Regions from separate parts of the Homo sapiens genome. Here region 1 is linked to region 2. Evidence: fine-mapped expression QTL. A gene starts in region 2. The other region holds a variant in brackets. All regions are shown on one strand. Distances are between the middles of the regions. Region 1 overlaps MIGA1 (mitoguardin 1). Region 2 holds the start of NEXN (nexilin F-actin binding protein).

Region 1 (5,524 bases), 22 kb before region 2:
TTCTGTCACCCCTCTTGGCCTAAGTGCCTGTTGTCTTTTCTCTGGGCTACATCAGTAGTCTTTATATTTCCCGATTCCCTGCTCACTCCTTTCCTCCCTGCATTCATTCTTTCCCCTGTTTCATTCTCCACATTTCTGCCAAAATGATACAGCACACTATACTTTTTCCTTTATTGTGCTTCACACAGTTCATAATTGGATATTTGCAGGATTATTTTGTTGCTGTTTTCCCCACTATACTCTAGGCGTCTAATTTGCTTACTCTAGAAGTTTGAGCACTTGGTACAGCATGTAGTATGTAGAGTGTGTATGTATGAATGAATGAAAGAGCAAGATGTTCATGATCTGGTGGGGAAGACAGGCACATATACCAGTAACTAAATAACAAGGCAGAATGAGCATCCTGGATGTTATAATAGAAGCGTGAACAAAGGACTCCTAGAATAGAGAGGAGGAGAGATTATTTTCACTTGAGATCTAGGAAGGAGCAGCGATAATGTGAATTCGTAATTTCTAGTGGCGAGCTTTCATATTTATCTCTCCTTTTATTTTTTATTTTTGAATAAGCTGATTAAAAAAAACCCCTGCTGTTATAAAACCATAAAGCCCTGGCTCAGATTTTATTTCAGCTCTATGTAATAATAATTTCTGTTTCAACTCATAATTTAATGCAGGTGAAAAATCTAAATTTTTATGATGTTGTTCTGGATTTTATATTAATGGACTCCTTTGAAGATTTGGAAAACCCACCCACATCCATACAGAATGTAGTAAATAATCGATGGCTAAACTCATCCTTCAAAGAAACAGTAAGTGGTGGTTAACCTTTCTCAGCCTTTTAAGTTTGATTAAAAAGTGAGGCTGGGCGCAGTAGCTCACGCCTGTAATCCCAGCACTTTGGGAGGCCAAGGCAGGCGGATCACCTGAGGTCAGGAGTTTGAGACCAGCCTGGCCAACATGGTGAAACCCCATCTCTACTAAAAATACAAAAAAAAAAAAAATTAGCTGGGCATGGTAGCGGGCACCTGTAATCCCAGCTACTCGGGAGGCTGAGGCAGGAGAATTGCTTGAACCTGGGAGGTGCAGTGAGCTGAGATTGAGCCATTGCATTCCAGCCTGGGCAACAAAAGCAAAACTCCGTCTCATAAACAAACAAACAAACAAAAAAGTGGTTGGCCAGGCGCGGTTGCTCACACCTGTAATCTCAGCACTTTGGGAGGCTGAGGCAAGTGGATCATTTGAGGTCAGGAGTTCGAGACCAGCCTGGCCAACATGGTGAAAGGCTGTCTCTTTTAAAAATACAAAAATTAGCTGGGTATGGTGGTGGGCACCTGTAATCCCAGCTACTCGGGAGGCTGAGGTGTAATAATCGCTTGAACCCAGGAGGCAGAGGTTGCAGTAAGCCGAGATCGTGCCGCTGCACTCCAGCCTGGACAACAAGAGTGCAACTCTATCTCAAAAAAATGTCAAAACTGGGTAGATTGTTAAGATTTACATATACATCTGTCTGTGAAATAATGTATGGAAACTGAGCTCATCCTTTGATATTCAGCTCAGGCATATACGGCATAACATCTTCAGATGAAATTCTCTTTTCAGCTTCTGTTCTTTTCTGTTCTCAAACCTGTTTGACATTGGTTTTTGTTGGGCTTTAAGTGTGCACCTGGAAGCAAAGTAGGGTGGATATATTTTATGATGCAGTTTGGATACCTTTAAAAAAATGTTCCAGTTGGCAATTTCACAATTATTTTGGAACTTACTGATATTAAACTTAAAAGCATTTTAAATAAATTCATTTTGCCTCAATTAAGTATGTTTTAATAATAAAAGGTACATGTTCTCCATTTCTGTAACTGATTTGGTAAAGTGACCTTGATCAAAGCTGGGTCATGCCAGAGTGGGGTCAGATTTTTCTTTCTTTTTTTTTTTTTTCCTTCCTGGAATCACCTCCAAGGGTCAGATTTCTTCAGGATCCACTGGGTGCTTTTGTCCTGTCATGGTTGTATTTCCTAGTTCTTTATTTGGATCAAACTGTTAGCTCTATTCACAAATATTCCAATAGTACTATTCTTGAAAAAAAATTACTTTAGGCCAGGTACAGTGACTCATGCCTGTAATCCCAGCACTTTGGAAGGCCGAAGCAGGCCGATTACTTGAGCTCAGGAGTTTGAGACCAGCCTGGGCAACATAGTGACACCTCGTCTCTATAAAAAAAATACAAAAATTTGCCAGGTGCAGTGGTGTGTGCCTGTGGTTTCAGTTACTCAGGAGGCTGAGGTGGGAGGTTCACTTGAGCCTTGGAGGCGGAGGTTGCAGTGAAC[C/T]GAGATCACTCCTTTGCACTTCAGCCTAGGCAATGGGAGTGAAACCCTGTCTCAAAAAAAAAGAAGAAGAAAAATTACTTTATTATTACACATAGAATATTTATTTGTGTATGTGAATTCTATATACACATATTTTCACTTTTTTCCCTTAAGGAACAGAACTTTAAAACTCTGAAAATTGAATCTCCTTTGTTCCAGAGTGCAGTCTTTTTCCTTTAGTGGCTTTGTGTTTAATTTTTTAAATATTATTTTACTTTTTTTTTTTTGCCCTTGCAACATACAACTTTGCTCATGATTTAAAAATTTATAAAAATGAAATACCTTTTCATTAATATTTTCAAACAATGTGAGGACCCTGACTAGTTTTGTTTTTTGTTTGTTTGTTTGTTTTGAGACAAAGTCTTGCTCTGTCGCTAGGCTGGAGTGCAGTGGCGCGATCTCTGTTTACTATAACCTCCGCCTCCCGGGTTCAAGCAATTCTCCTGCCTCAGCCTCCCGAGTATCTGGGTCTACAGGCATGCGCCACCATGCCCAGCTAATTTTGTTTTGCATTTTTAGTAGAGATGGGGTTTCACCGTCTTGGCCAGGATGGTCTCCATCTCTTGACCTCATGATCCACCCGCCTCGGCTTCCCAAAGTGCTGGGATTACAGATGTGAGCCACTGTGCCCGGCCGACTAGTTCTTATTAGTAATGAATGTATTGAACGTTTTAGACCCATAAACTTTGAATTTCTAATAAAAATGGAAATGTTTATATAGCTATATATAAATCTTTCTTTTCTCTGCATGTATTTAGGCTGTGGCTTCAAGTTGTTGGTCGGTGCTGAAACAGAAAAGACAACAGATGAAGGTAAAATTCGTTATGTCCTGAATTCCTTTGTTAAATCATTTAAGGATTCTGTCAAAGCAGCTTCTGAGTCACTTCTCCGGTGGGAATTGGCAGCTGTAGGAGGGGTAGGAGGGACTGTCCCTCAGGCTAGATGAGTGACTTACTGGTAGTGGGTTGGCTTCTTTTTTGAAGGCCTTCTTTCTCATCCTTAGTATTGAGGCATGCATGGTATTTCAGCTAACTGGGAGAGGGGTTTCGAGTTGGAAACAGCTCTGATAAGTTTTAGGTTTTTGTTTTTTCTCTTAATGATATTAATTTTTTTTTTTTTTTTTTGAGACAGTCTGTCTCTGTTGTCCAGGCTGGAGTGTGGTGGCGCGATCCTGGCTCACTGCAATCTTTGCTTCCCGGGTTCAAGCGATTCTTCTGCCTCAGCTTCCCAAGTAGCTGGGACCGTAGGTGCCACCACACCCGGCTAATTTTTTTATTTTTAGTAGAGATGGGGTTTCACCATGTTGGCCAGGCTGGTCTCAAACTCCTGACCTCAGGTTATCCGCCCGCCTTGGCCTCCCAAAGTGCTGGGATTACAGGTGTAAGCCACTGCACCTGGCCAGTATTTTTTTACAGTTCTTTAATATAGTGGATTCCCTTCGTTTAATCCAATTAAGAAATAAAGATTTGATTCTAATAGCTGCTTTATTCAGTTTGGAGCCCCTACAAATAAAAAGTCTCAGAGTTTATATCCTGCCTTCACGCCTCACACCCTGTAACCTGTCTTACCTGCTAAGCATTGTTTTCCTCATACACTCCTAGTAGTAAAGGGCAAGGACTCTGGAGTGAGACTACTGGGTTCAAATGCCACATACTAGCTATGTGACCTTAGGCAAGTTGCTTACCCTCTCTATGCCTCAGTTTCCTTATCTCTAAAAATAGAATAGTAATAGTATCTACCTCATAGTGTTTTGTTTTGTTTTAGAGATAGGGTCTTGCTCTGTCATTCAGGCTGGAGTGCCGTGGCATGATCATAGCTCACTGCAGCCTCTATAACTCCTGGGCTAAAGCAATCTTTCTGCCTCATCCTCCCTGAGTTGCTAGGACTACAGGTGCACACCACCATGCCTGGCTGATTTTTTATTTTTGTGTACAGATGAGCTCTTGCTGTGTTGCCCAGGCTGGCCTCAAACTCCTGGCCTCAAGTGATCTTCCAGTCTCGGCCTCCCAAAGTGTTGGGATTACAGGCGTGAGCCACTGTGCCTAGCCCTCATAGGGTTTCTTGAAGATTCAATGTGAAGTGCTTAGAACAGTGCTTGGCATAGTGCATTAAGCAAGTATTGACTGTTACAACATTATTATTTACCCAAGGACCTGTAGTATTTTATCATATCCATATTTTTCAATCTTATAACTTTGAGACAGTATTGCCAGTTGCAGTGATTTTAAAGTATAGTCCTCACAGCATCTTTAGAATGTGCTGGTAGAAATAATTCTGGAGCCCCTGTATTTGAATAATTCTTATTTAAAATGATTCCAGAGACCCATATTTTAAGCAGGTTTCCTTAATGATGATGATGAACTCTAACGTTAGGACTAGGAACAGACTTGTATACATGGGTTTGATTCTCACACTAGCTAGCATGATTACAGTAAGTTACTGACCATCAGCTTACCCTCAGTTTTCCCATTTGCAAAATGGTGTTAATGCCTACTTAATAGGACTGCGGTAAGGATGAAAGCGATGATATCAGCAAGCTTAATTTAAACATTAAACATTTAAAGAGTTTAGTAAGTGGTAGTTATAATAATAATGATATATTATTAACATGTCTAACTTTATTTTTCTACTTCTTAGAATAAATATTGTACTTTTTTTTCTTTTTGAGACGGAGTCTCACTCTGTCGCCCAGGCTGGAGTGCAATGGCATGATCTCAGCTCACTACAACCTCTGCCTCCCAGGTTCAAGCGATTCTTCTGCCTCAGCCTTTCAAGTAGCTGGGATTACAGGCGCTTGCCACCATGTCCGGCTAATTTGTATATTTTTGGCAAAGATGGGGTTTCATCATGTTGGCCAGGCTAATCTCAAACTCCCAGCTTCAAGTCATCCACCTGCCTTGGCCTCCCAAAGTGCTGGGATTTCAGGCCTGAGCCACTGCGCCCAACCTATAACTTTCTATATCCATAGATACCTATATGTCTCACCTCTTAGGAACTATTTCCTATACCTGAAATGCCAAATTCCCTCTGTACTTAAATAAATCTTACCCATCATTGAGCTCAGCTCACATTATTCCTTGCTGAAATTTATCTAGTCTGCTTCAGCCCACACTAAGTTCCCACTTCTCTGAATTCATAATACACTTCAAGTCTGTATGGTATTT
Region 2 (5,000 bases):
GCTGGTCTCGAACTCCTGACCTCAAGTGATCCACCCGCTTCAGCCTCCCAAAGTGCTGGGATTACAGGCGTGAGACACCATGCTCAGCCAACTCACTTCTTTAAATCACAGAAATAAATATGTAATTATAAATTGATATGTATAGGGGCAGGGCACAGTGGCTCACACCTGTAATCCCAGCACTTTGCGAGGCCGAGGTGGGTGGATCACTTGAGGGCAGGAGTTCAAGACCAGCCTGGCCAACATGGTGAAACCCCATCTCCACTAAAAATACAAAAAGTAGCCAGGTGTGGTGGCACGCGCCTGTAATCCCAGCTACTTTTGAGTCAGGAGAATCGATTGAACTGGGGAAGCGGAGGTTGCAGTGAGCTGAGATCGTGCCACTGCACTCCAGCCTGGGCGACGGAGCGAGACTACATCTCCAAATAAATAAATAAATAAATAAATAAATAAATAAATAAATAAGCAAATAAATAGGAATATATATATATAGGGAAGAGAAAGGTGGGATGAAAGGTGAGGTGCAAGGTGGGGAGAAAGGTGGGATGCAAGGAAGCCTTCTCCGAGGAAGCAGCATTTAAGAAGAGATCGGGAGGATATGTTGAAGTTAGGTGAAGGGGAAAGTGGGAGAAAGGATTTCATGCAGGGAACAACTTATACAAAGGCCCTGCAGCCAGACTGCCCATAGAAAGTTTCATGAACTGAAGAAGGCCAAGGTGATGGCATCAAAGAGAGCAAGGGCACAAGCAAGACTACCAAGACCACCTATCACTATCCGTAGTTCGGTACATTTAAATAATTTTAATTACCAATTTTGAACTTTTCTGTAATCGAGGAATGAATGGCTTACCCTCCTTAGAAAAGTTTCCATCCTGAGTAAATACTGTGGGGATGGGACTGGGGAACAGAGTTATATTTGAGTAGAAGGCCTTTTGTGTGTACGGGTGTGAGAGAGAGAGAAACAGAGAGAGAGAGGGAGTTTCACTCTTGTTGCTCACGCTGGAGTGCAATGGCGCCATCTCAGCTCACAGCAACCTCAGCCTCCCGGGTTCAAGCGAAGTGGGTTCTTCAACCTCAGCCTCCCAGGTAGCTGGGATCACAGGCGCACGTCACCACGCCCGGCTAATTTTTTGCATTTTTAGTAGAGATAGAGTTTCACCATGTTGGCCAGGCTGGTCGCAAACTCCTGACCTCAGGTGATCCACCCGCCTTGGCCTCCCAAAGTGCTGGGATTACAGGCAGGAGCCACCGCGCCCGGCCTTTTTTTTTTTTTTTGGAGACAGAGTCTCATTTTGTCACCCAGACTGGAGTGCAGTGGGATGATCTCTGCTCACTGCAACCTCCGCCTCCTGGCTTCAAGTGATTCTCCTGCCTCAGCCTCCTGAGTAACTCAGATTACAGGTGTGTGCCTCCACACTAGGCTAATTTTTTGTATTTTTAGTAAAGACGGCCTTTTGCCATGTTGGTCAGGCTGGTCTTGAATTCCTGACCTCAAGTGATCCACCCGCCTCGGCCTCCCAAAGTGCGGGGATCACAGGCATGAGCCACCGCGCCCAGCCCAGAAGGCCTTTTCAACATCCCTGAAATATAACCTGAGCACCGCTGTCTGCTTAGGGCCTGAAGGTGGAAGTGGTTACCTTTATTCTTTATCTGGATGTCATTTCGATTTTTTTTTCAAGTGCAGTGAAGAATTAAAGATCTCGTCCACCAAAAATACTCCGAGTGTGCATTTCGGGTTTTAATATGGTATTGTCTGATGGGTTTGACAGGCTGGCGGTCCAAGTTGAAAAAGGTCTGTGGGTGTCTAATAGTCAAAGATGCCTTTATGAAGCTTTAGAAAGACCAGATATGGTTTGCCTTCAATTAAGAAAAAGGTGGAATATAAAGATATTTGTACTTATATAAATATATTCCTTCTTTTCTTCTCCTCCTCCTCCTCTGCCTTCAACTTTCTTCTTCTTCTTCTTCTTCTTCTTCTTCTTCTTCTTCTTCTTCTTCTTCTTCTTCTTCTTCTTCTTCTTCTTCTTCTTCTTCTTCTTCTTCTTCTTTTTTAACTCTCCTTTTAGAGTTAAAGACTGGAGCTAAGAACAGGGGAGCAATAGACAGATGAAGTGTTCCCGGATTGCTGCCCCACGCTCTTTGTAATAAAGGAAAACTTGGCCAAAGGTCAATGCTTAGGGTAGTAGAAGATATGTAGTGGCTTGGCTTCTTGACTGGAAACTAGGACGGGTAGAGTAGCTGAGAGAAGTGGGCCCCAGAGCAAACTGGTTGCGGGTAGGGGGAGCCAGCTTCAGCCCGGTAATGAAGCCCATTTCAGCCTCATTCCTTTCCCATGGCGGAGGCAGCCTTCCTTCCCCAGGCCTGGCTGGAGGTGGAGGCAGGCCCAAAGTTAGGGGGTCAGCTCGCGCACCTAGGGCCGGGAGACAGACAAATTCTGGCGGAAAGTTGGCAGCCACGGTCCCCCTCCCCTGCTTTTCTCCTCAACTCTCCACCCCCACTCCGGGTGATAACGGCGGAGGTGGGGGGTTGGGGGAACTGGCCTTGTGTTTTGGAACAGCTGCAGCCGGCGCTGGGCCCGCCTGGAATGCGGGAACAGGCTGCACACCAGGACTTTTATGGAAACTTGCTGCTGGAGACGGCGGCGGCGGCGGCGGCAGCGGCAGCCAGAGGACTCCCAGCGGCTGGAGCAGAAGTGTTAGCGGCCAGAGCTCCCAGACCCCTACCCACAGCCAGGCGGGACGCGCACAGTCCCTCCACGCGGAAAGAAGTACCTTCGCCGGTCACCGGCTCCTGCAGGGTGAGAAGAGTTGGGGGAACGTGGGCTGGGGGGAGTGGAGACGGAGGTGTCGGGTCCCCTGGTGGGGGCGGGGGCGGGAACGGCGGCTGCAGAGAGGCGCTCGGGGTCTGCGGCTTCTGGCCGTGCTCCGCTGCAGCTCCGGAGGGCGCCGGGCGCCATACAGCTGTGGTCCGCGCTGGCCCCGGCCCGGGCGAACCCTGCCTTGGAGCCGCATCCTGCGGGCTCGGCGGGGTGCCTACCAGGGGCTGCCCCAGGGTCTGAAAGTGTCGGCCGGCCTTGGGCTTCTGGTTGCAATGTCTTTGCCCTGCTCCCCTGCGCCTTGTCGGCTGAGTTTCGGGTGCGTTCCCTACTGTAGGGAGGGAGCCCTCTGTGAGCGGAGTGGGTGCCGATCCCTCGGCTGAACCCTTGGGGTCCTTAGGGAAGTTCAGTGCCGTCCCCCACCACTTGCCCCAGCCGCGGTCTCCGTCTCTGCCAGCAGTGCCAGTTAAGAAATCCTTTCTGATCGGTCTCTGTGGAAGATGGGGAGAAATATGATTTAACAGCCTATTACTCCCCCCCCACACCCCCGCATATCCCCCCACTCCTGTCTCCAACCCTTTTTTTTTTTTTTTTCGTGATTCTGCCCGAGGTGGGATGCTGGGGGTTGAGCAACTAGGGCTGGAAGTTTACGAAGTTTACGTAGTTTAAGTGAGTGAAGAATGTAGTCACCTCTTGAGAACTCCCTTTGCCTATATGCTTTTGAAAACGCCAAACCATTCCAGCTGTTTGTAAATTGTGAAACGTTCTACAAATGCATTAGCATTGGCATTTATAAAGAAAATGACGAAGTTGAGAGGTTATAGTTGGTTACTGCAGTGACTTAGAGATGCTCATTTTATAGTTATTAAAGCACAACGTGAACCAAGTTGGCAGAGAGATAACAAGGTAAAAATAGCATAAGGATATGTCCTAACAAAATGTCCTTGGTGAAGACACAGGTAGAGAAAAGAAGCCATAATAAAGAAATTAGTTCCCTGACCAAAACAACGGGAATATCATTCATCGTTAAATTTTGTTAATGAATTCATGTAGCAGCGGCCCATTGGCCTTCGAGTCACAACATAACTATGTCTTAGGTAATGTGATTAAATAAACTTAAGTATTTATACTTAAGTTCATATCTTAGTCACACGTTATTTATATCTTAGTCACACGTTATTGAGTGGACCACATAATTTCCCCCGCTAAACATTATCCTTTACAGGTTAAACTGCTGCAGTTAGAAAACTTTGTCTCAAATTCTTTTGAGTTTGGGGTATTGTTAAGAAAAAATGCATAATTAATCAAATGAGAGAAAGGTTTTTTGGGGGGAGGTATAATTTGTATAAGTAAACTTTGATTAACCAATGTAGCTGTTTAAGTTTCTTCTTCCTTACAATTAACACCGTATTTTTGCAGATATTTTATATTTTGACTAATGCTTCTGAGGAACAATTTAAAGAAAAATGCATGCAATTATGTAGTTTATCTGCAATTCCCTTAAAGAATTCTAAGCTAAAACCACAACAAAATTATTTTAAATCCAGTTTTCCTCATCATAGTTACAATGTAATCCAGTTTTAATAAAAGATTCATATTTTAAAATCCATTTTCAATTGAAATGTAATGAATAGCAATTGTTCCTGCTCACCTTAAAATGGAATTTGTGCTATTTTTGAAAATTTGACATGTAAGGCTGATCATTGTCAAAATGTATGTCATCTTGAGATGACTATATTTAGCATCAACAAAGGAATGCATTATCTAGGTTTTTGAACAGTCTTTTTCCCCTGAAATTTCACTTGAAGTATTTAGGTTAGGGTTTCATTTTTGAGCAGAATAAAAACTAAATATGCATATTTGGAAGACATTAATTGGGGATTCAGATTGCTTAGAATCTGAGCGGCCTATAATGACATACTTCATTTATTAAAAAAAATACCTGTTATCTTTGAAATACCCTAAAAGACAAAAAAAAGGGGGATTATTTAAATATGAGAGTTGTGCACACCTAAAAGAAAGAAAATAATGCAGTGAATGTGGAAAAGTATGTAACAGACAGGTAAAAGTCTAAACGTTTTTATAGAAGAGAGGACTGTTATTTTATAGTTATGTAGGCCACACACACACAGAACATCTTGGTAGTTTATAATTTGGAGAGAAAATGATTTATAACATTCTTAAC

What was found. PIP is the estimated chance that this variant, and not a neighbour inherited with it, causes the effect.
Region 1: its variant is the best candidate, but not a certain one, in a credible set for the expression of NEXN in whole blood (INTERVAL, PIP 0.86).

What each region holds. Positions count from the first base shown.
Region 1 is chr1:77,863,220-77,868,743 of GRCh38, forward strand. It overlaps MIGA1 (mitoguardin 1), which reads left to right. Exons shown (of 16, transcript NM_001416120.1): 13 at 675-809; 14 at 3,119-3,172. Among named protein-coding and RNA genes, the nearest start is that of NEXN, 23 kb to the right of the region's middle. The variant C/T (reference allele first, on the strand shown) is at 2,322.
Region 2 is chr1:77,885,963-77,890,962 of GRCh38, forward strand. NEXN (nexilin F-actin binding protein) reads left to right here and starts at 2,662. Exons shown (of 13, transcript NM_144573.4): 1 at 2,662-2,797. It overlaps NEXN-AS1 (NEXN antisense RNA 1), which reads right to left and starts at 3,577. Exons shown (of 3, transcript NR_103535.1): 1 at 3,506-3,577; 2 at 1,638-3,306. RefSeq lists an enhancer at 2,607-2,666 and a silencer at 2,907-3,046.